7 linked regions of the Homo sapiens genome follow. The gene in region 2 interacts genetically with the main gene of each other region. Each region holds a gene or a part of one and is shown on either strand. Other genes may lie near its edges.

What was found.
Region 1: changes in EP300 (region 2) and DCAF7 together harm fitness less than expected from each alone (positive genetic interaction), as found in Homo sapiens cells (one large-scale study listed by BioGRID).
Region 3: changes in EP300 (region 2) and VPS51 together harm fitness more than expected from each alone (negative genetic interaction), as found in Homo sapiens cells (one large-scale study listed by BioGRID).
Region 4: changes in EP300 (region 2) and RAB5C together harm fitness more than expected from each alone (negative genetic interaction), as found in Homo sapiens cells (one large-scale study listed by BioGRID).
Region 5: of EP300 (region 2) and STAT6, changing one enhances a phenotype caused by changing the other (phenotypic enhancement), as found in Homo sapiens cells (one study listed by BioGRID).
Region 6: of EP300 (region 2) and MYOD1, changing one enhances a phenotype caused by changing the other (phenotypic enhancement), as found in Homo sapiens cells (one study listed by BioGRID).
Region 7: changes in EP300 (region 2) and VPS45 together harm fitness less than expected from each alone (positive genetic interaction), as found in Homo sapiens cells (one large-scale study listed by BioGRID).

The regions. Positions count from the first base shown.
Region 1 is NC_000017.11:63,584,977-63,588,476, forward strand, and holds part of DCAF7 (DDB1- and CUL4-associated factor 7), read left to right. Parts: intron 1-234; coding exon 235-352; intron 353-3,500. UniProt on the Homo sapiens protein: Involved in craniofacial development. Acts upstream of the EDN1 pathway and is required for formation of the upper jaw equivalent, the palatoquadrate. The activity required for EDN1 pathway function differs between the first and second arches.
Region 2 is NC_000022.11:41,095,592-41,099,091, forward strand, and holds part of EP300 (histone acetyltransferase p300), read left to right. Parts: intron 1-3,500. UniProt on the Homo sapiens protein: Functions as a histone acetyltransferase and regulates transcription via chromatin remodeling. Acetylates all four core histones in nucleosomes. Histone acetylation gives an epigenetic tag for transcriptional activation.
Region 3 is NC_000011.10:65,099,214-65,102,713, forward strand, and holds part of VPS51 (vacuolar protein sorting-associated protein 51 homolog), read left to right. Parts: intron 1-3,500. UniProt on the Homo sapiens protein: Acts as a component of the GARP complex that is involved in retrograde transport from early and late endosomes to the trans-Golgi network (TGN).
Region 4 is NC_000017.11:42,127,735-42,130,989, reverse strand, and holds part of RAB5C (ras-related protein Rab-5C), read left to right. Parts: intron 1-399; coding exon of another isoform or gene 400-487; coding exon 488-653; intron 654-2,189; coding exon 2,190-2,341; intron 2,342-2,606; coding exon 2,607-2,729; intron 2,730-3,255. UniProt on the Homo sapiens protein: The small GTPases Rab are key regulators of intracellular membrane trafficking, from the formation of transport vesicles to their fusion with membranes.
Region 5 is NC_000012.12:57,104,863-57,108,362, reverse strand, and holds part of STAT6 (signal transducer and activator of transcription 6), read left to right. Parts: intron 1-63; 5' UTR 64-84; coding exon 85-200; intron 201-619; coding exon 620-758; intron 759-1,048; coding exon 1,049-1,132; intron 1,133-1,531; coding exon 1,532-1,670; intron 1,671-1,782; coding exon 1,783-1,835; intron 1,836-2,023; coding exon 2,024-2,172; intron 2,173-2,763; coding exon 2,764-2,895; intron 2,896-3,023; coding exon 3,024-3,212; intron 3,213-3,500. UniProt on the Homo sapiens protein: Carries out a dual function: signal transduction and activation of transcription. Involved in IL4/interleukin-4- and IL3/interleukin-3-mediated signaling.
Region 6 is NC_000011.10:17,718,352-17,722,370, reverse strand, and holds MYOD1 (myoblast determination protein 1), read right to left. Parts: upstream 2,801-4,019; 5' UTR 2,589-2,800; coding exon 1,959-2,588; intron 1,470-1,958; coding exon 1,391-1,469; intron 1,117-1,390; coding exon 863-1,116; 3' UTR 235-862; downstream 1-234. UniProt on the Homo sapiens protein: Acts as a transcriptional activator that promotes transcription of muscle-specific target genes and plays a role in muscle differentiation. Together with MYF5 and MYOG, co-occupies muscle-specific gene promoter core region during myogenesis.
Region 7 is NC_000001.11:150,140,776-150,143,302, reverse strand, and holds part of VPS45 (vacuolar protein sorting-associated protein 45), read right to left. Parts: intron 466-2,527; coding exon of another isoform or gene 372-465; intron 1-371. UniProt on the Homo sapiens protein: May play a role in vesicle-mediated protein trafficking from the Golgi stack through the trans-Golgi network.

The sequences.
Region 1 (3,500 bases), on a different chromosome or scaffold from region 2:
GTTTCTGCATCTCCCCTATCAGTCTAAAGGCCCAGTGTTGCTCAAGATAGAGACTATCAACTACCCGTGTCCTTTGTCTTCTTTTCCCTCAATCCTATGGAAATCCTGTCTCTAGTTCTTTAAATCCACAAATGAAAAATTATGCCTAAAAAGATTTTTGCATGTGGATAGTATTTTTTGTTTTTTTCTATGAAACTCTGATGATCCCAGGCCTTTTACTTGTTATTTCCGCAGGTGGTGATTCTAGATGTCCGGGTTCCCTGCACACCTGTCGCCAGGTTAAACAACCATCGAGCATGTGTCAATGGCATTGCTTGGGCCCCACATTCATCCTGCCACATCTGCACTGCAGGTAATCATGGTGGGGAGAAAGAAATCTGGGAAGGATGGAGGAAATCTGTTCTCTTGGCTCCTTAGAATTGTAGTTGTTACTGTTTTCTAAGCACAGTCTTGAGAGATTTATACAAAATGACTAGTTGGAGCCTCTCCACACTTGTGAAATTCAATCAGTACAAATTTTTAGACGATCTTGTACCCTCATGGACATCAGAACATCTTCCATATATGATTTACATCATGTGTCAGTTATAGGGCTGTGCCTTGTACTGTGCCCCTGAAATCTGGATGGCACAGAGGACTCAATTCCAGGAATATGGGGAAAGGGAGGCATCCCTCATGGATATAACAGAATCTTTGGGACTGTGAAGATCAACATCTCCATGGGACCTTTCAGGTTTCACTATAACAAACCCACAGTGTGCTCTGGATGCATCGGAGGGCCCCACAGAACTTTGCCTGGTTGTGGTTTGTGACTTGTGGTTTTCATTTCACTGTTTCCCAGACCAAAGCTAGCACCCCTTACGGGCTGGGTGCAGTGGTTCACGCCTGTAATCCCAGCACTTTGGGAGGCTGAGGCGGGTGGATCACCTGAGGTCAGGAGTTCGTGACCAGCCTGACAAACATGGTGAAACCCTGTCTCTACTAAAAATACAAAAAAAATTAGCCAGGCATGGTGGCACGCACCTGTAGTCCAAGCTACTTAGGAGGCTGAGGCAGGAGAAGCACTTCAACCCAGGAGGTGGAGGTTGCATTGACCAGAGATTATGCCACTGCCCTCCAGCCAGGGCAACAGAGCAAGACTCTGTCTCCAAAAAAAAAAAAAAAAAAAAAAAAGTACCCCTTAAAAATATGTTGGGCCAGGCACAGTGTTTCAGGCCTGTAATTGCAGCACTTTGGGAGGCTAAAGTGGGAGGATTGCTTGAGGCCAAGAGTTCAAGACCAGCCTGGGCAGTATAGTGAGACCTCATCTCTACAGAAAGTTAAAAAAAGACTATCTGGGTGTGGTGGTGAATTCCTGTAGTCCCAGCTACTTAGAGGCTGAGGTGAGAGGATCCCTTGAGCCCAGGAGTTTGAGGTTACAGTGAGCTGTGATTGTGCCACTGTACTCCAGCCTGGGCAACCAAGCAAGACCCTGCCTCTAAAATAAATTTTAAAAAAAGAAAAGAAAGGCTGGGTGCAGTGGCTCACATCTGTAATACCAGCACTTTGGGAGGCCGAGGCAGGTGGATCACGAGGTCAGGAGATCAAGACCATCCTGGCCAACATGGTGAAACCCTGTCTCTACTAAATACAAAAATTAGCTGGGCGTGGTGGCACATGCCTGTAGTCCCAGCTACTCGGGAGGCTGAGGCAGGAGAATCGCTTGAACCTGGGAGGTGGAGGTTGCAGTGAGCTGAGATCGTGCCACTACCCTCCAGCCTGGTGACAGAGTGAGACCCCGTCTCAAAAAAAAAAAAAGAAAAATATGCTGGTTGTCAATGCACTTTTATTGTAGAAATAATGCCAATCTGTTATTTAAATTGAAAACAGTACAGAAGCATATTTAAGAGCAAGGCGAAAGTCATCTTTTCTCCTTCCTATATCATTTCTGCCTCCATCCCCCTCTGCATAGATGACCTCTATCAACAGGTAATGTGTCTCCTTCCAGACCCTTTTGGTATACTTTCAGGGATGTACATCTATGCCCCCAAATACAACTATATACTTCTTCCTTTTGCACTGATAGGATTCTGTCCTAGTCCTGTGATGTTTTGCTCCTTAACTTTTTTAGTGTGTTTTTTTTCTTCTCCTCACTAATCAGGAGCCTTATAATGGACAAGGTTTGTTATGGAGCCCAAGAAGCAATGTACTCTGGTGTTTTTCTGCCATTTGAGCATTATTTGGAAGGCATGAAGCTTTTCCTGATTTTGGCCCTCTGCTCATGCCTGTATGTCTCCTTGAAGAGCAGCTGGGGGCCTGCTGCTGCCTTCTGTACCTCAGATTGTGGTCTGTCTTCTTCATTATTGCCCTCTTTTTTTTTTTTTCCCAGGGGTGTGGATAGGGAGGGATAGAAGAAGCAGAAAAGAAAGGTGTCATCCATTATTCATGGAAAGCAGGACTGGCCCCGTAGAAGCCCCATTTTCTGCTCCTGGCTGCTGCCTTTGTCTGGCTCGCTGTTGTTTTGTGTGTTGCACCTGCCTTGAGCCCCTTCAACCGAAGGAGCTGTTGCTCAAGTGTGCTCGGTTGAGCATTGAGGAAAAGGGCCTTAGTGCTCTAGAGGTGCAATTCCCTGACCTCTTGGCATTGATTGTCCCTGGGAGAGGGATCTTGCACCTGGCCCAGACTATGCGGCCTTGGCAGGAGACTAGTATTGCCCACAATTAGTCTATTAGGGTTTAGTTTATTCAGATTTTCTTTGTATCTGAGACCAGCTTTCATCAGAATGCATGGCAGAGTCAGGGTACACTGCAGCTCTGAAGGCCATTGCCTTATTTTTTTCTTTTTTAAAAATTAACTTACTATTTTGATTATAAAAGTAATATAGGCCAGGTGCGGTGGTTCATGCCTGTAATCCCAGCATTTTGGGAGGCCGAGGCAGGAGAATCGCTTGAACCTGGGAGGCTTTGGTTGCAGTGAGCCGAGATTGCACCATTGCACTCAAGCCTGGGCAACAGAATGAGACTCCATTTAAAAAAAAAAAAAAAAAAAAGTAATATGAGCACATTACGAATCACTTAGGAACTAGAGAAAAGTAAACATAAATCCTAACCTTGCCATCTTAGTATTGCCATCATTCTCATTTTAATATATTTCCTTCTACTTATTTTTCATGTGCTTTTATATATTTAAAGTGATTACCATCTTTCTGGTGTTTCCCATAGCTATTTTCTTGGATTTTTTTTTTTTTTTTGAGATGAAGTCTCACTCTGTCACCCATGCTGGAGTGCGGTGGTATGATCTCGGCTCACTGCAACCTCTGCCTCCCGAGTTAAAGCGATTCTCCTGCCTCAGCCACCGAAGTAGCTGGGATTACAGGTGTGTGCCACCACACCTGGCTAATTTGTATTTTTTTTTTTTTTTTAGTAGAGATGGGGTTTCACCATGTTGTCCAGGCTGGTCTTGAACTCCTGACCTCAGGTGATCCGCCTGCCTCAGCCTTCCAAAGTGTTGGGATTACAGGT
Region 2 (3,500 bases):
TAACTTTTATTGGAGGCACATCACCTCTTAAAACTTTTAAGTTTCAAACTTGTAACTTTTGATTTTTGAGTTGTCACTTGGGTATTTTATAAATGTGAAAGAAAATTATTTCTTGATATTATGGTTTTTGTCTAGAACTGGTTGAAATAAGCCCGAAATTCTAGCACCTAAAACTTTTTTAAAAAAAGTGATTTAGGCTTGCAAATTTCGTGATGTAAATATATCCACCAAGAGCGTTCTAATGTCAGCTTTAAAGGAAAGAAAACTGGAATCCAATGGGATGACATGCTAAAGTGTTACAAATCAAATTATTACTTAAATCTCAACCTCTGAATTGCTGTTTAATACTCAGATATTCTCCTAAAAAATTTCCAGGTTGATTCAAATAACTTAGGTTAAACTCAACTTTTACGTGTTGGGATGGGGAAGAGAAGACTTATTTGTAGCCTTCACACCTTTATGTTCCTGTTTCAGTATTTGCATTTGATCCATTGAAATTTTTATTTCATTTGGTATGGTTAGGGTAAAACAAATCATTTGAGAAATGACATTTTGTTCTCCCTCTCCCTCCAAAAAAAAAAGATTATGAAAGCCACTTGTAAACTTTTTTTGTAAAAATGACCAAAAGACTGGAAAAGTTAATGTTAGGCAAATCCTGGAAATATCTTTTGGAGCTGTTTCTGATCATCTTGAGTGATGGAAATGATGAGGGTCATCTGTTGTCTTCATTACTCAGTGAACACGTTTTGTCACTGCTTGGTAAACGCTTAATGCCGTATGCACTTAAAAAGCACCTGGAAAGATAGGATTTTAGGATCTGGCATATAATTAAGTAGGGTAAAGATCCTTCTGGTCTTGGTACAGTTTTGTGGCCCTGGGTTTTGTGCTTTTTTGTTTTTTGAGTTTTTCCCCCATTTCAAAGACACAGGGCAGATAGTGTGTAAAGTATACCTGCTTTTTGACCAGTAGATTAATGTACACAGTGGAGAAGTGGTAAGGCTTTTTAAAATGTCAGCTCTACTTTTTTTTTTTTTTTTTTTTTTTGAGACAGAGGTTTGCTCTCGTTGCCCAGGCTGGAGTGCAGTAGCTCGATCTTGGCTCACTGCAATCTCAACCTCCCAGGTTCAAGCGATTCTCTGCTTCACCCTCCTCAGTAGCTGGGATTGCAGGTGTCCACAACCATGCCCAGCTAAGTTTTGTATTTTTTAGTGGAGACAGTATTTCACCATTTTGGCCAGGCTGGTCTCGAACTCCTGACCTCAGGTGATCCACCCGCCTCAGCCTCCCAAAGTGCTGGGAATACAGGCGTGAGCCACCATGCCCGGCTGTCAGCTCTATTTTCTTAAAATGCCATTGTGTTAGTGGTTCGTCATCCTAACCAAAACATTTTGATCAAGACCATTTATTTTCCAGCTCTGTAACTTGTGATATGCTATGTTTTATTTTATTTTGGCTTGAATGTTTACATAAGAGTTTGCTTCTGGAGTCTTGCAGATATAGCTCCTGATTTAGTGAGGCATTTCTCTCCTCAGTATTAAATTGCAAAACATTTTACTAAAGTGCTTTAAGTTTTTCTGGCAATTATTCTCAAGGCCTTGTAAGTTCATTTATAGGACTTCAAGAAGGTTGTCTCTGGTTGATAGTGAGATAAAGTGACTTTTAAGTTGTAAATCTTGAATGCGTTACAATATGGGGGTCTTATTCCAGCAGGAGTTCATCTTCTATAGCAGAGGTTGGAATTGTATTGGCATGTCCAGTGAATGGATAATAGGGAGGAGGGAGGAAAGGGTTTCTGCCTTGGTGGCCTTTTGGCATTATTTTGTGTTTTTCTTTGCTTTTCTCTCTCTTCTTTATTTAATAAAAACAAAAAAATGGAAACAGTTGAAAATTAATGCAAAGTGGTATTTGTAGGGACATTAAGTGGTAAATAGGAAAGAGAAAAAGAGTAGGAAGAGTGTTGCAGATACAAGTGGGAGTGTAAAATACTTTTTCCTGGTATATTTACAAAAACAATTTGAGAGTTATTCTGCCAATTCATATACCCAGCAATTAATGGAAAAGTAAAAGATGCTAGTTTTATGTTTGTCCAGATTTTAGGGTTTCCTTCTTTGAAGATTTCTAAAGTTGAATATTTTTTTAAGTGAGGCAAGCAGTAAAATTAATGGGCAAATGAAACCAATTATACCAAGTCTAAAATTTTTCTTTTTTTTTTGAGGCAGAGTCTCGCTTTGTAGCTGGGACTACAGGCGCCTGCCACCATGCCCAGCTAATTTTTTGTATTTTTAGTAGAGACGGGGTTTCACCATGTTGGCCATGATGGTCTCGATCTCCTGACCTTGTGAACCTCCCATCTCTGCCTCCCAAAGTGCTGGGATTACAGGCGTGAGCCACCGCGCCCAGCTAAAAATTTTTTTTTTTTTTAATACTTTTAAGTTTTAGGATACATGTGCACAACGTGCAGGTTTGTCACATATGTATACATGTGCCATGTTGGTGTGCTGCACCCATTAACTCGTCATTTAGCATTAGGTATATCTCCTAATGCTATCCCTCTCCCCTCCCTGCTAAAAAATTTTTTAACATTGAACTTCGCAGGTGATTTTTTTTCGCTTAATAGACGGTAGTTTCATTTTGAAATTTTCATGGGAAATTACTGCTCACTTTCCCAGAAGCGCTTAAGAGGATAAATAATAATTGAGGTGTTAAGCCTCTTCTGAGCAATTTGGATATAATTTGTTTTTAGATCTAGATTCTTTTTTATAAATGTCCCAAAGCAATTAGAAGTGATTGTTTTTTTTGAGACGGAGTCTCGCTCTGTCGCCCAGGCTGGAGTGCAGTGGCGCGATCTCGGGTCACTGCAAGCTCCGCCTCCCGGGTTCAAGCCATTCTCCTGCCTCAGCCTCCCGAGTAGCTGGGACTACAGGCGCCCGCCACCACACCCGGCTAATTTTTTGTATTTTTAGTAGAGACGGGGTTTCACCGTGTTAGCAAGGATGGTCTCCATACACTGACCTCGTGATCCGCCCACCTCAGCCTCCCAAAGTGCTGGGATTACAGGCGTGAGCCATAGCACCTGGCCCTAGAAGTAATTTTGTTGAGAGAGAGAGAGTAAAACTAAAAGTACTGAAAAGAGTAAGAGAGTAGCTAAGAGAATGAGTATTGGAGTCAGACTGCTAGAGTTCATAGCCCAGGCTTGTATTTATTAACTGTGAACTTTGGGCCAAATACTTAACCTGGCTCAACCTCCTCACATTTATTCCTAACCACAGCCCTGTAAGGTGGGTGCGCACCTTATAGGAATCCACCTTACTTACCCACCTTACAGGATTGTGGTTAGGAATAAATGAGAATTCTCTTTATCAGATGCTTAGGACTATGCTTGCTTCTGTGTAGTATGTGTTCATTGTTAACTGTTTTTAACTTTACTGCTAAATATATCAGAAGGAAAGCAGTGGTAGATGGTTTGGGGGTTGTTTTTGTTTTTTTGATTTGCAACGAAG
Region 3 (3,500 bases), on a different chromosome or scaffold from region 2:
GGGCAAGAGAGAGAGAAAAATGAGAAAGGAACTAGGTCCTCAGGAAGGAGGGGGGTGGAACAGAGCAGGGATGGAGGCATCGGCCTCAGCAAAGGGCCGGGAGCTCATCTATGGTAGCAGGAGGGGAAGCAGAATGTGGGCAGAGCCAGGCAGATAGTAGATGTGCAGTTTAACTAGAAACCTTCCAGAATGTATTAGGGATTTGGCTTTTATCCACAGAGAGCTAAAACAAATGAGTGATGTGCTCAGATTTCTGGTTTGAATAGATTCCTCCAGCTGCACTGGCAGGAATGGATGGGGCTGAGCACAGTGGCTCATGCCTGTAATCCCTGCACTTTGGAAGGCTGAGGTGGGAGGATCACTTGAGCCCAGGAGTTTGAGACCAGCCTGTGCAACATAGTGAGACCCGATATCTAGAAAAAAAAAAATAGCTGGGTATGGTGGCACACACTTGTTAGAATAAACCCAGCTACTTGGGGAGGCTAAGGTGGGTGGATCACATGAGCCCAGGAGCTGGAGATTGCAGTGAGCTATAATCTCACCATTGCACTCTAGCCTGGGTGACAGAGCAAGACCTAGTCTCAAAAAATAAATAAATAAATAAAAAGGCCAGGTGCGGTGGCTTATGCCTATAATCTTAGCACTCTGAGAGGCCGAGACGGGTGGATCATCTGAGGTCAGGCATTTGAGACCAGGCTGGCCAATATGGTGAAACCCCATCTCTACTAAAAATACAAAAATTAGTCAGGCATGGTGGCAGGCATCTGTAGTCCCAGCTACTCAGGAGGCTGAGGCAGGAGAATCGCTTGAACCCAGGAGGCGGAGGTTGCAGTGAGTCGAGATCGCGCCACTGCACTCCAGCCTGGGCAACAGAGCGAGACTCCGTCTCAAAAATAATAATAATAATAAATAATAATAAAAGGACAGCCCACAGAATGGGAGAAAATATTTGCAAGTTAGTTATCTAATAAAAATCTAGTGTTCAGAACATAAAAAGAACGTTTTTTAGCTCAGGGCTAAAAAGACAAATAACCCTAATTTAAAATGGGCAAAGGATTTGAATAGACACTTCTCCAGAGAAAACATACAAGTGGCCGAAAAGCACATATAAATATGCTCAGCATCATTAGGTCTTAGGGAAATGCAAATCCAAACCACAAAATGCTGCACCCAGTGTGGAAGACAGTTTGACCATTCTTCAAAACCACACACAAGATTACCATATGATCGGCAATTTTACTCCTAGGAATATACCAAAGAGAATTGAAAACATGTTCACATAAAAACATGTACACAAGTGTTCATAGCAGTGTTTTTTTTTTTTTTTTTTTTTTTGAGATGGAGTCTAGCTCTGTCACCCAGGCTAGAGTGCAGTGGTGCCATCTTGGCTCACTGTAACCTCCGCCTCCCCAGTTCAAGCGATTCTCCTGCCTCAGCCTCCTGAGTAGCTGGGATTATAGGTGTGCACCATCACACCCGCCTAATTTTTTTATTTTTATTTTTTGTATATTTACTAGAGACGGGATTCCACCTTGTTGGCCAGGCTGGTCTTGAACTCCTGACCTCAAGTGATCCGCTTGCCTCGGCTTCCCAAAGTACTGGGATTACAGGCAAGAGCCACCATGCCTGGCCAATAGCAGCACTTTTTATAATAGCCACAAGGTGGAAGCAATCCAAATGGCCATCAATTGAATGAATATAAACAAATATCCACACAGTGGAATATTATTCAGCCATAAAAATAGATATAACATACTGACACAGGCTACAACATAGATTAACCTTGGAAACATGCTAATGTTTCATATGCCTATGATTCCATTTCTGTTAAATGTATTCTGTAGCGAATAGACAAATCCATAGAGACAGAAACTAGATTAATGGTTGCCAAGTTCTAGGAGTGGGGGAATAAGGAATGACTGCCAAGGGTTACAGGGTTTCTTTAGGGGATGATGAAATGTTCTGGAATTACGTAGTGAGGTTGGTTGTACAACCTTGTGAATATATTAAACATATTAAAAACCACTGAATTGGTATGTCAATTATATCCCAATTAAAAAGAAAACCAGGCATTGAGCCAGATTTGGCCTGCAGGCTGTAGTTTGCCAACCTCTCACCTAGACATTGAGTTTCATTATGTAATAATGCATTTACTTGTGTCAAAATTAGAAAGATCTCAAACATTATACAGGGAAAAGCCTCTCCTAATTCTTTTCTCTAGGCAAAGACAAAGCAGTCTTTGACAGTACATTTCACTGAAAATTAACAGAGCCCAGGTGGGATTATGGCTCATACCTATAATCCCAACACTTTGTGAGGCAGAGGCAGGCAGATTGCTTGAGCTCAGGAGTTCGAGACCATCCTGGCCAACAGGTTATACCTGTCTCTACAAAAAATACAAAAATTAGCTGGGTGTGGTGTTGTGTCCCTGTAGTCCGAGCTGCTCAGGAAGCTGAGGTGGAAGGCTTGTACCTGGGAGGCAGAGGTTGCAGTAAGCCAAGATTGTGTCACTGCACTCCAGCCTGGGTGACAGAGCCAGACCTTGTCTCAAAAAAAAAAAAAAAAAAAAAAAAAAAAAGAAAATTAACAGACATACAGAAAAGTGCACATAAGTGGACAGCTCCATGGATTTCACAAAGGGAGCACAGTCACATAATCAGCATCCAGGTCGGGAAACAGCATAACCAGCAAAGCCCCCTGAGCCTCCTACCAGTTACCACCCAGTCCCCTCCCAAGGTAGCCAACATCCTCGCATCCAGATGGCTTTCACTCTCCCTGGTTACAAACTGCTTTTCTTAACAAGCTTTTTTTTTTTTTTTTTTTTGAGACAGAGTCTTGCTCTGTCATCCAGGCTAGAGTGCAGTGGCCCAATCGGCTCACTGCAACCTCCGCCTCCGGGGTTCAAGTGATTCTCCTGTCTTAGGCTTCCAAGTACCTGGGATTACAGGCACCTGCCACCACACTTGGCTAATTATTGTATTTTCAGTAGAGACGGGATTTCACCATGTTGGTCAGGCAGGTGACCTCAGGTGATCCACCTGCCTTGGCCTCCCAAAGTGCTGGGGTTACAGGCGTGAGCCACTGTGCCCAGCCTGCTTTTCTTAACAAGCTTGAAATGCAAAGATAAACAGTGTAGTCTTTGTGACTGAATGGTGTGGATGCTTTCACTGTTGTTTTTGGATATGGTACAACTTTTATCTCCAGTGTAATGGCTCCATGGCTGGGAAGGCAGCGACAATGACAGCACACAGCACTGTTGGGTTTTCTTTTACTCTATTTTCCTAACAACTTAGTGTTTGGATTTTACCCTTTAGAAGTTGGATTCAAGCTTCCTTCTTGAGGTAGCCCCTAAGTGTCATGGGCTCAAACACCCACTACCAAAAGAGTCTGCTCTTTTCATGGTAGCTTTTGGCAGACCTGGAAGGAGATTGTGTCACATGGCCTGTAAACAAAACCAGTAATTCACTGGGTGAAGACCAAATGCCTCATCAACTGCCAAG
Region 4 (3,255 bases), on a different chromosome or scaffold from region 2:
GCTTTTGTTTTGTTTTGTTTTGTTTTAATTTTGCCCCAAAAGCCTGTTGACTTAACTGTCACCAGGCTGTCACACATTCATTCATCGCCTGTGTGTGTTTATTTGTAGGTGAATGTACATATTTGGGATCCAGAAGTCAATGTGTTTGCTCAGAACCATGAGCCTGAAGTTGGGAGACCATTCTCCTCTTTACAGCTCAGATGGTGGTAGAGCCGGTAGACATCTAGTATAGCCCAGTGGGGCCTCCTGACCTCTAGTGGGGAGGGCAGGGAGGTGAGGTGAGGGGAAGCAGTCAGCTAGGTCTTCAGTGAGGCCAGAGGGAAAGATCTGTAATTTAAGAAGGACACAGCGGGTGACGGCCTCTGAACTAACTCAGTACTTCTCATTTCTCCCTTACAGTTGGAGGTCCCCCTCCCCACTAAGTGCCTCTTTGCATAGCACCAGTCCCCACCCGCACGCTCTCTGGACCACTACAGCTGGACGGGCAATGGCGGGTCGGGGAGGCGCAGCACGACCCAATGGACCAGCTGCTGGGAACAAGATCTGTCAATTTAAGCTGGTTCTGCTGGGGGAGTCTGCGGTAGGCAAATCCAGCCTCGTCCTCCGCTTTGTCAAGGGACAGTTTCACGAGTACCAGGAGAGCACAATTGGAGGTGAGTGGGCATGAGGGAGTCGGGGAGGGGCCTGAAGGTTGCCAAAGAAATGCTTTGACCTTGAGGAGATGGGAAGCTGCCTGCCTGCATTAGGGACTAAATGCGTCTGTGGTGGCAGCCCCACTTCCTCACCTGGGCCCTGGAATTGAGCCCAGCAACTGGTCTCCATGCCAGAGTCCCCTCAAGCATCGCTAGTAAGCATTTGCTGGGAGTGGAAAGCTAGCTTCCCATCCTGTTTCTGCCCCTTCTTGATCTGTGTGGCCTTGGCTGAGGCCCTTTCACTGCCCTGGCCTCATGGAGGGAGAGCTGACTCTGGATCTTTGAGGCCCCTTCTTACTATAATGGGTGGTCCATGTGCCCTGGCCTTTCCCACTTCCAGAAGAAGGAACAGCCTGGTGAGTCGGAGCTGGGTGATAGGTGGGTGTTTCTGAAGCTGACTTTACCCTTTCTGGAGCTCACAGCCTGTTGTTGATTTTCCAGTGGTCAGCATTTAGGATGTGAGTGAGGGTCTGGCCTCGGCCTCTTGCCTCCGTGGCTAACACACACATCAAGAGGCAGGGGCCAACGCTGGCCTTGGCCTTGAGTCATCCTTTCTCTACTCTCTTGGTAGGAGGTTTCTAGGCAGCTGGAAACAAAATGGGCCATGTCAGCAGTCTCCCTGCTGCCTCCTCAGCATTTGGGTCAGGAGCTGGAGAGGGGAAGTGAGGCAGTGCCCCATGTCCCTCAGTGAGCTGGGGGAGGGCAGACCAGGAAAGCAGCCTTCTACACATGGCTGTCCTGGGTTCTCTGCTGGGTCCAGGGGCAAAGGGGCCTTTTGCTGTCTGTCCCAGCTCTGGACTCCTCCTTTGAAGCATGTGTACAGGCACCCTGCATTCCCCTAAGGAGTCACCTCTTAGTGACTGAAGGTCAGGTCACAGGGTGGCCATACAGGAACAGGTCTGGGTCAGAGCTAGGGGCGGTGGCTAGCTGGAGTGCCTGGAGGTGGTAGGGGTGGTTGGGAAGCCGGCCACCCAGCCTCAGCCTGGTGGTGGAACAGTGTGTACTTCCCCAGCATAGCTAAGTGTGTGAGAATGTCCTTAGGAAACCCAAGGTCAGTGACACCCCTGGGCTGGAGCAAACTGAGGGGTGGAGCGGTCCCTAGCTGCTGGTCTGTTCTCTGAGTGGCGGAGGAGGAGGTCTGAGGGCGCTCACCCTTCTGTGCTTGGAGTAGGCTTCCCCTAGGCTTTCCCTCTCTTGCCCCTGCTGTGTTGCTCTTCAGAGAGTGGTCCTGAGATGGCTCAGTGCATGCAGGAGTCCCTTCTCCTGCCGTTGCCTGGGCTGGGTCTGCAAAGCCTGTGCAGACCCCGTCCCCCAGACACATACATAAAAATCCAAACTCCACCCCCCACTCAGGCCTGCTTTGGCTCCTGGCTTGAGGGTTCTCTGTGCCCATCTCAGTGGTGGGCTTCTGAGTGCCAGAGCCTAGAAGCAACAGTGGGATTGTGTGGGGTGGATTCCAACTCGCTCTTGCCCATGGACGCTCCTTCTCTCTTACAGCGGCCTTCCTCACACAGACTGTCTGCCTGGATGACACAACAGTCAAGTTTGAGATCTGGGACACAGCTGGACAGGAGCGGTATCACAGCCTGGCCCCCATGTACTATCGGGGGGCCCAGGCTGCCATCGTGGTCTATGACATCACCAACACAGTAAAGATTTCCCCTTGCTTCTTCCTTTGCCCTTCATCTTCTCAAAGTCCCAGGGATTGGGTTATCAGAGCCCTGATTTCAGGCCGCTTAACCCTCTGTTCCTGGGTGGGGGGTGGGCAGATTTCCTGTTTGGGGACATTGCATCAGAATCTTTAGGTGGCAATGTCTTAGATAATTTGGCTGTGCCAGCTTGAGAGTCTCTAATGGGTGGCCCTGGGCAGAATGCCTTCTCTGTCCCTTCGACATTCTGTCCCTGTCTCCTCAGGATACATTTGCACGGGCCAAGAACTGGGTGAAGGAGCTACAGAGGCAGGCCAGCCCCAACATCGTCATTGCACTCGCGGGTAACAAGGCAGACCTGGCCAGCAAGAGAGCCGTGGAATTCCAGGTGGGGAGATGACAGACTTGGGGGAAGGAGTGGAGTAAGCAGCTCCCCCCGGCCTCGCCTGGGATGCTCAGGGGCTTTGGGAAGGGCCATGCTAGGAGGCAACAGGGAAGCTTCCATCTGCTGTCCTCTCGTGCCTCAGGCATGGGCCTAACATGGCTCCTGTCTGTAATCCCAGTGCCTTGGGAGGCTGGAGTGGGAGGATCACTTGAGGCCAGGAGTTCGAGACCAGCCTAGGCGACACAGTAAGACTCTGTCTCTGCAAAAGATTTAAAAATTAGCTGGGCTTGGTGGCACGCACCTGTAGTCTCAGCTGCTCAGGAGGCTGAGGCACGAGGATTGTTTGAGCCCAGGAGTTTAAGATTGCAGTGATTGCAACACTGCACTCCAGCCTGAGCAAGAGTGAGGCCCCATCTCTTTAAAAAAAAAAAAAAAACAGCCAGGTGTGGTGGCACACACCTGTAATCCCAATACTCTGCAGGCTGAGGCGGGAGATCACTTGAGCTTAGGAGTTCGAGACCAGCATGGG
Region 5 (3,500 bases), on a different chromosome or scaffold from region 2:
GCCCCAGGAGATAGGCCAAGTTTCTTGGGCACCCCTCAGAGTGGCCTTATTTTTCTCCTCCAGGCAACCTCCAAGTCCCAGATCATGTCTCTGTGGGGTCTGGTCTCCAAGATGCCCCCAGAAAAAGTGCAGCGGCTCTATGTCGACTTTCCCCAACACCTGCGGCATCTTCTGGGTGACTGGCTGGAGAGCCAGCCCTGGTGAGTCCTGGCTGCTCCCTGCTGGTCCCCCAAGTCTTCCCTAACTCATCTTCCTTCTCCTTAGATTTTTCTCCCCTCACCCATGGATTCAGAACTTGAGACCTGTTATTCCATGTGTAGTGACCTAGATTTAGCAGGGAGTCTGTGCCCCATCAAGACCAGGCTATGAATGTTGACAGATGGAGACCCCATCTCTTAGGAGGCTGAGCCGAAGAGGAGGGGGGTTTGGGCTGGGACAAAGGCACTTCTCATAACAGCTAGAAGACTGGGAAACAAGGCGCATGGGTGAAAGCTACAGAGGGCCTAGATGGAGAATAAGGAGCGAGAAAGGAACTGCTGAGCTTTTGGCTGTGGGGTAAAGGGTCAGGAGAGCTGAGGAAGCCCTGGCCTGAGGTAGCCTCATCCTGATCTTCCTGCAGGGAGTTCCTGGTCGGCTCCGACGCCTTCTGCTGCAACTTGGCTAGTGCCCTACTTTCAGACACTGTCCAGCACCTTCAGGCCTCGGTGGGAGAGCAGGGGGAGGGGAGCACCATCTTGCAACACATCAGCACCCTTGAGGTGGGGCAGGAGGGGAGGGGACAAGGCTGGGTGGGGCTGAGGTTGAACTGGGTTGAGCATTGGGCCCTGGAAGAAAATTGGTTGGATGCTGGAAGCAAATTGGTGTTCCTGTGGTTAACTGCTAGCTAGCAGGCAAATTAGATTTTAAAAGCATGCAAATGCACAAAAACTTCTGGAGTCTACAGTTGTGCTTCCTTATAGTATATGTGTGAATGCAGGCCTGGGGATTGGAGGGATTGAAGGACATGGGTAAGAGCAAAGCTCACTGTTTACCACCCTCATTTCTGTAGAGCATATATCAGAGGGACCCCCTGAAGCTGGTGGCCACTTTCAGACAAATACTTCAAGGAGAGAAAAAAGCTGTTATGGAACAGGTATTGTGATATTCCACCTCCCACCCCAACTCAATCCCCTGAGACTTTGGCCTGAGCCATGACAAACTAGAAAGAATTTGAACCTCAGTAAAGGCTCAGTGTTCTAGGCCCAGGAATGACCAAAGGAGGTTCCTAGGGTCAGAGTGAACCCCAAGTCAAGCTCAGGGAATCTTTCTATGAGGGACTGAAGGTAAGAGGCCGGGGAGAACAGAGCAAGGGATAAGGAGCTGATTCTGCTAGGAGCAAGGTCTTATCTCCACGATATTCCAAAAGGTCAGGAAGAACTGCCAAAGGGGAGAGGGGAACAAGAAAACGCTATCTGCAGAGCAGAGAGTGGAGGCCAGGTATAGAGGGATGAGCAGAGTGTTTCACTTCTTGGCATCTGTCCTTCCTGTGTAGTTCCGCCACTTGCCAATGCCTTTCCACTGGAAGCAGGAAGAACTCAAGTTTAAGACAGGCTTGCGGAGGCTGCAGCACCGAGTAGGGGAGATCCACCTTCTCCGAGAAGCCCTGCAGAAGGGGGCTGAGGCTGGCCAAGGTGGGGGCCAGGGTGGTTCTGGGGAGTGTGTAGGAGTGGTTGCCTCTTGGATCTCAACCTTATCTGAACCTCTAATCTGTCTGCACCCTTGATTTCTGCCCCCAACCCTCAGTGTCTCTGCACAGCTTGATAGAAACTCCTGCTAATGGGACTGGGCCAAGTGAGGTGAGTAATGGGCTGACAGGTGGAGACCTTGGTCAAAGTGCAGCTGGAGGGATGGAAGCTAGACCTCAGAAAGACACAGGCTGAAGTAGGGCAAGGGAATGCCAGAGGAGTGAGAAAAAGAGCCGTATCCCAGGAGCTGGGTGTGGAGGCAGCGTGAGGCCCTGGCTCAGGCCCCTCTCTGCCCATAGGCCCTGGCCATGCTACTGCAGGAGACCACTGGAGAGCTAGAGGCAGCCAAAGCCCTAGTGCTGAAGAGGATCCAGATTTGGAAACGGCAGCAGCAGCTGGCAGGGAATGGCGCACCGTTTGAGGAGAGCCTGGCCCCACTCCAGGAGAGGTTGGGCTAGGGCTGATGGGGAAGAGGGGGCAAGCTGGGGGTGGGCAGCTGACCCTGCTGAAGGCCCTACAGGTGAGAGAAAGAAGCCAGGCGGGAGGGCCTTGGAGTGGACCAAGATGCATAAAAGCCAGTTCCAGCGGGGCTGTGCACACTGTCGTTCAGGTCGCATCCTGTACAAGTGGGCCTAGTGGAGGGGCACAAGCGGGGACTCATCCAACCCAGGCTTCTCTCCTCAAGCCCCATGCCTAGAGGAATAGGAGGGCTTTTCCATTTGGTTTATTGGGTGGGAACACTTTCCAATTTGCCACAAAGCACTGTAAGTGGTGGCAGTTGTCCTGGGTGCAAGAGCCGTCGGGGGAGAGGCAGCTGGGTTTCCACAGGGGGTGTAGGCACTGAGAATGAACCTCCCACCCAGACCCTAGGCCAACAGATCACAGAACCCCCTTCAGCCCAGGTGCCTTGCAGCCACACCCACTACCCACCCCACTTCTCCACACATGATAGCCTTTCTCCCTGGGTATAGGGGAAGGGGGTCTGGGCCGGAGCAAGCAGCCTTAATCCTGTGCCCCCTGACCACTGTCCTGGCCCCAGGTGTGAAAGCCTGGTGGACATTTATTCCCAGCTACAGCAGGAGGTAGGGGCGGCTGGTGGGGAGCTTGAGCCCAAGACCCGGGCATCGCTGACTGGCCGGCTGGATGAAGTCCTGAGAACCCTCGTCACCAGGTATTCCCCGGGAGCTCCCAGTCTGGCCTAGAACAGACCTCGGGAAGAAAAGAAGGGGGCTAGAGCTGTGGGGAGGGCACCAGCAGGGACCTAGCCCCCAACTCCCCTTGTGTCCTCCTCACTCCCAGTTGCTTCCTGGTGGAGAAGCAGCCCCCCCAGGTACTGAAGACTCAGACCAAGTTCCAGGCTGGAGTTCGATTCCTGTTGGGCTTGAGGTTCCTGGGGGCCCCAGCCAAGCCTCCGCTGGTCAGGGCCGACATGGTGACAGAGAAGCAGGCGCGGGAGCTGAGTGTGCCTCAGGGTCCTGGGGCTGGAGCGTAAGCTGGGATTGGACCTGGGGTTGGAGAAGGGCTGTTAGGGTGATGGAGGCAGCCTGGAGGGCTGGCACTGAAAAGAGCAAGGGATGGGGAGGGAGGGCCATGGGATGTGGAGACCCTGAATGGTCAAGGCAGAGGAAAGGGAGGGACCCATTTAGGGCTGGAATGGGGTGGGGGCATCATGATTTGGCCAAGATGGGGACTCCTCCCTTAAGAACCCAAACAGAGACATGGAGATTTAGGGCTGGTGACAGTGGGTAGTCTACACTCACCCATGCACTCGCCACA
Region 6 (4,019 bases), on a different chromosome or scaffold from region 2:
ATATCAACCTGTGTACCCTTCCATAAGAGCCACGGACGTGTGTAGTAATGTAGTCAAGGTCAGAGGAACTTCCTCACGTACTGGAGAAATTTGCACCCCTCCTTCCTTCCCCAGGCAGCAGGCTTCCTCCTTGCAATCCGCCTGCCGCCTACAGGCGTCGCTGAGGGACAGCTGGCCCAGTTTGCGGATTTTCCTCCGGATCCCACACCCATGTCCAGGGAAAGCCGGAGCCACGGCGGTATAAATTAGCGCCTTTATTTTGATCACCTGAGCGAGCGCCCGCGGCTCGCCCGCCTGCGGTATAAACGTACAAATTCCCTGTAGCACCACACACCATGCCTCAGAGATAAATACAGCCCCAGGGGCTCCTGCTCTGGCAAAGCAACTCTTATTTACAGGAATAGATTACAAAAGTATTACAAAAAGTGGTCCTGAACCGGGAAACGGGTTGGGGGTGGGTTACGGTTACACCTGCTACATTTGGGACCGGAGTGCACTGGGTCTCACGCCCCCCCAAATAACCGGTGCATCCCGGGGCAGGGCTTAGGTCTGCGAGGGTCTCACCCCCATGGGGGAGGGCGCGAGAAAGCTGAACCTAGCCCCTCAAGGTTCAGCTCTGGCCCACCGAGGAACACGGAGCGGCCATCGCAATGGGTCTCCGAGAAGGGTGCTGCGTGGAAAAAACCGCGCTGTGTCCTTGCCCTGTGGGGCGGGGGCGGAAACTTCAGTTCTCCCGCCTCTCCTACCTCAAGAGAGGTCGCTTTTAAAGCGCTGTTGGGAGGGGGGCATTTAAGTTCAATCTTTTGGGCGCGAGGGACCCTAGGGGCACCATCCCTCGGGCGGGTGGGCGGCCACCATCCCCTCAGAGCACCTGGTATATCGGGTTGGGGTTCGCACCCGCAGGGCACTGCGGGGCGGCGTCCGGTGACTGGGTGGGGTCGCCGCTGCTCTCTCCCTCGCTGGGGGCGGCAGCCTCTTGCCTGCGCGGAGGCGACTCAGAAGGCACGTCCGCCAGCAGGAGGGCGGGCGCCGCAGGGCTCTCGGTGGAGATGCGCTCCACGATGCTGGACAGGCAGTCTAGGCTCGACACCGCCGCACTCTTCCCGGGCCTGGGTTCTGCGCGGGGAGGGCTCGGTTAGTAAGCAGGGGTGGGGCCGCGACAAGCCTCCCACCCCCGGGCCCAGTACTTTGAGACAGATTGGAAACTGAGGACTTTAGTTAGAGTCCGGGACAATCCAAAAGACAGGGAGCTACTTGCTTAGTATTTCATCTCCTGCACCACTTCCCAGGACATAGGCGTGTGTGAGTGGGGGTGGGAGCGTCCTAGATAGAGGCCAGGACAGCTCCATGAAGGAGGAGGAGCGAGCAGGGAGAGGCCCGGAATACCCACCGCTGGGCGCCTCGTTGTAGTAGGCGCCTTCGTAGCAGTTCCGCCGCCGGGCGCCGCTCGGGGGGCCGCTGTAGTCCATCTGCAAACAGCAAGGGCGACTGAGTCAGGCCCGCGGGACGGCTCGAGGCCCGAACACCAATTCCTGTAGCCGCCCCCTCCCTAACTCTAGCCTAAGGCTCTAGTTCCGGGCCCAGACCTGTCCTGGTTGGGGGGGTAATTACGGGTGGGTAGGAGATGAGGTCTGCAACATGCAGGGCCAAACCAAGGGCGGACAGTCACCAAGGGGCGCAAATTTACATTTTGGAAGTAGGGATAAGTAGAGAAAAAGATCTTCACGTTCGCGCTGCAGTGTTCTAATAGCGCCCCCAATGGGGCAGCTCGAACGCTTGCCCGCACACTTCCAAAACAGGCTACCCCAGTGACAGCTGCCCAGGACAAGGGGGTCCTCTCTCTCGGGAAGGATCCTGGCCCAAACCTCCCGCAAGGCCAGCTCCCCGCCCTCGGAAACGCGTCCCTGATATCCCGAGCGCCGCCCTAACTTCCTCACTTCCTGGGGTCCCGGCCTTACCATGCCGTCGGAGCAGTTGGAGCGCGGGCTGGACGCGTCGGAGTCGCCGCTGTAGTGCTCGCCGCCGCGGCCCGGGGGCAGCGGGCCCGGCGCATAGAAGGCGGCTGCGGCGCCAGGGGGCGCGGCGTCCTGGTCGCGCAGCAGAGCCTGCAGGCCCTCGATATAGCGGATGGCGTTGCGCAGGATCTCCACCTTGGGCAACCGCTGGTTTGGATTGCTCGACGTGCAGCGCTTGAGTGTCTCAAAGGCCTCATTTACTTTGCTCAGGCGGCGCCGCTCGCGCATGGTGGCGGCCTTGCGGCGGTCGGCGTTGGTGGTCTTGCGCTTGCACGCCTTGCAGGCCCACAGTAGGCAGCGGCCCGCCTGGTGGTGCCCGCTGGGCGCGCGCACATGCTCGTCCTCACGTGCGCCCGGGGCCGGGTGCACCGCCGCGGGGAAGTGCGAGTGCTCTTCGGGTTTCAGGAGCGCGCCCACGTGCATCAGGCGCGGGTCCAGGTCTTCGAAGAAGCGCAGGTCCGGGGAGTCGAAACACGGGTCGTCATAGAAGTCGTCCGTTGTGGCAAAGGAGCAGAGAGAGCCGTCGGGGGCCGTCAGGTCTACGTCGCGGAGCGGTGGCGACAGTAGCTCCATATCCTGGCGGTGGCGCGGCACGGTCCTGGCTTCGCCCAACCCAAGCGGCAGAGAGTGGCCGGAACTTTCTGCCGCTCGGGAGCCCCGGCTGTAGATAGCAAAGTGCTGGCAGTCTGAATGCCCACCCACTGTCCCCCACCCCTCCCTCTCCTGTCCGGCCTGATTTGTGGTTAAGGAAAGCGGCGGCAGCGCCCCAGGGCTTCCTCACCCCTAGCTTCTCGCCAGGCGCCCTGGGCTATTTATCCGTAGTAGCCTAAACGCCCCGGAGCCCAGGCGGGCAGCTGGGGGAGGGGGAGTCCGAGGCCAATAGGAACACTGCGGGGCGGGGCTTGGGGGGGTCCCCGGGGTGGCCGCAGGGGCCCGCAGACTGGCCAGCCAGCCCGCCCCTCCACACTGGCGTGCGCGCTAGGTCCCCTACCGGGCAGGGAGGGAGGGAGCGACCGGCAGCCCTAGGCGGCTGCACTTGGCTCTCCGGCACGCCCTTTCCAAACCTCTCCAACACCCGACTGCTGTATCCGCGGGAAACGCTGGCTGCGCGCGCTCACCTCTGAGCTGACTTTCAATACTCCTCTGTCCCCTGATTTGTGGGGGACCCATGGGTAGAGCGGCTGTAGAAATCAGGTCGTGAGAGATTTGGAGAGAGGCAAGGCATTGGGGGCACAGAGCTGAGGAGTGAGACCGTGAAAGAGGGACCGAAAGAGGCTGAGAGACACGCAGAAAGCAGAAAGCTTAGAGCGTCAGGGGCAGAGAAACGCACGAGTGCAACAACAGGCGGAGAGACCCCGAGAGTTGAAGTGGGCGAGCCCGAGACAAACGGGTCGTAGAGGCTCTGATATTCCGCCAGTCCCCGACCTGGGAGTTGCTCAGCAGGTCGTGGGCCCAGTCCTTCTTCCCTAGACGCTTAGAAACCCAGCTATGGTTGTACAGGAATCGGAGATTGCTGCTAAAGCTTCGCGCCAATCTCTCCAAACTCGGATCCTGCCCAGGTTAGGAATCCCCTCCATCTAAATCTGCACGTTTCCACAGCAGGGGTGTCCAGTGCCATGCCTGGGGTCTAGGCTGAGCTGCCTCTTCAGCTGGGAAGAAAACCCTTCTGCTCGGGGCTTGGCTCCGCCTCACTCGCGGTGCTGAGTCAAGGAAAGTGCATTTCGCCAAGGTGTCAAACTTCAGGACCTGGCCTGAGAACCTGACCTCATCTCACCTGAAGTCTCCGAGAGTGCGGTTTGCAGACCAGTTGAGTGCAGACTCCAGAGTTTCCCAACTGTGTGATTTTGTGGAAGTCATGTCTCCTTCCTGAGCCTCAGTTTCCAGTTATAGATTTGGGGATGACAGTAATTTCTTGGAGTAATTGTGGTGGGGATGACAGTCTGAAGAGACCAAGGATATGGAAGCCCTCAGGCGGTGATGTAGGGTTATTCGAGCAAGGGGCTT
Region 7 (2,527 bases), on a different chromosome or scaffold from region 2:
CTTATTCTTCAAGACTAAGGATTAAAAGTCACTTTTCTGGCCAGGCATGGTCTCATTCATACATACATACATAAATACATAATCATAAAAGTCACTTTTTCTGTAAAGCCCTTCCAGACCCCTCCATGCTGAACTAATTACTGTTATTACTTTATCCCACTCCTATCTTAGCACTGTATAATTGTTGCCAAGACAGACTGTGAGCTTCTTGGGAGGTAGGGGGAAGTCTTACTCACCTTAGATCTCCAGGGCTTAACACAGAGGTATCCAATAAAGTTATGCTGAGTAAATGAATAAAATAGCTACCCATTGGCAAGACAGCCTTCTTTATAATATAAAAGTTATTTGGATGGACGGGTGCAGTGGCTTACGCTGTAATCCCAGCACTTTGGGAGGCTGAGGCGGGTGGATCGCTTGAGCCCAGGAGTTCGAAACCAGGCAGGGGAACATAGTGAAACCCCATCTCTATAAAAAATACAAAAATTAGACAGGTGCCTGTAGTCCCAGCTACTTGGGAGGCTAAGGCAGAAGAATTGCTTGAGCCTGGAGGCAGAGGTTGCAGTGAGCCAAGATTGTGCCATTGCACTCCAACCTGGGCGACAGGAGTGAAACCCTGTCTCAACAACAACAACAGCAACAACAACAAGTTATTTGGATGCTCAGGACTCTCTCTCAGAGCAGACAGATATTTAAAAGACAGAGGACTGGAGGAATGACCAGTTATTACCATTGTTTTGCAGTTTTATTACCATCTTGCATTGAAAGATTCTGGGCTTGGAGAATTTAAATTCCAAACTCCTTTGCAAAAGAAAAAATTGCAAAGTAGAGGGAAAGGAGTAGAAGCTAAGTTCATTTGTTCCTCTATGGAAATACAGACATCTTTGGCCTGGCTTTTTGGCCAGTTGGACTAGACACAATTGGAGGTCAGAAAACAAGTGTTAGGAAATGAGGTAGCACTGATTTTTTTTTGAACAATAACACAATAAGTCTTGATGACTTCTAGAAAGAATGAAATAAATGTGCTGGGAAGCCCTATAGGAATTTTATCAGGGGATCTTTGGTTCATTTCCAACTCTGCTACAAAGGGAAGAAATAAAGATCCTCCTCTGTATATCAACAAGACCCCACATTCCTGACTATAATGAGAACACACTTACTATTTATATTTACCAGCCTAATTTTGTTTCCTAGGGCCACTATGACTTAAAAAAAAACTATTTGGGGACTCTAATGAGTCATTGCTCAGAATGCTTAAAAAATTATGGCGAATGAACATATTGCTAGCTGTACCCCAAATTTAGACTATGTTTAAAAACAAAACAAAAAGAATAATTTTTCTTTCTAAATTCATTTTAAATCAATCTCACTTAAAAGCAAACTCAAAAATCCCCTTCTCCGTTGGTGCCATAGTCCAGTTCAATTCAGTTCAATTCAATCCAATTCAACAAATGTTTAATGAGCATCCATTATGAACTAGGTGTTGAACTAGGTGTACAAATGTACACCTTAGTTATGATTCCTACCTTAAGGGACTCTCAGAGACAGATACACAATCACAATCCAATATGAGTATAAACAGAGGCAGTGCCAGAAACTAACAGAGTGGATTAATGCTACTGCTTTTTTTAGTTTGTGCTGTCATCAAGGGTGTTTTCCTGACTCCATGTATAGAAGGAAGGTGGGTGGAAAAAAGCAGAACCCCAACCCTGATTTTAAAAAGTCAACCTTGAGAAGTCTTGAGTCACACACTGAAAAGCAAGCTTCTCCACTTACATCACTGGTAAGGGACTAGAGACCAATGTTTATAGGATTAAAAATATTAATTACTAAAATAATTCAGCTGAACAACTGTGTTTCTATTCCTAAACAAAGCTATCATACTGTAACAAAAACTATGTGTGTGTATGTGTATATAATTTAAGGATATGTCTTCCTCCTTTTTCACTATACTCCACAGGTAAAAATTACATGTGAATTTCTTATACCAAAGACACCAAGGGGAATCTAGAACCTGAATAGTGTTATAATAATTAAAAAAATAGAACTTGTGGGGAGCAGAAAAATAGAAAAAGACTTTCAGGAAAATAATGAGAAAAACCCCAAGATATTTGTCTTAATGGAGTAATAAGCTCCTAATTACAGCCAAACACTTACTTGGAGAAGTTAGGAGTATGGGAGTGGGTAAGGCAGAAGGATAAGATGAAATTATTAATAGCTTAAAACACTGAAAATGCTCCTCACCTCTCAACTTCCACGGCTTGCAGTTTTCAGAGCCACTGCTATGTTTCATACTTCTTTGCTTTTGCACCTGCTATTCAAAGGCTGTCCCATCCATCTCACACTTTGTTTGGTGGAACTATGCATCTTTAAAAACCCAACTCTCACATTATTACTCCTCTAGGAAGCTTTCCTCAACTGCATTGCTTTCCCCTTAGAGTTACGTACTCATTCTTCCATATCTTGTAAATATACTGTGTTGTAATTTATTTGTCTGTATGTCCATTTTCCATGCAAGCTTATGAAGCTT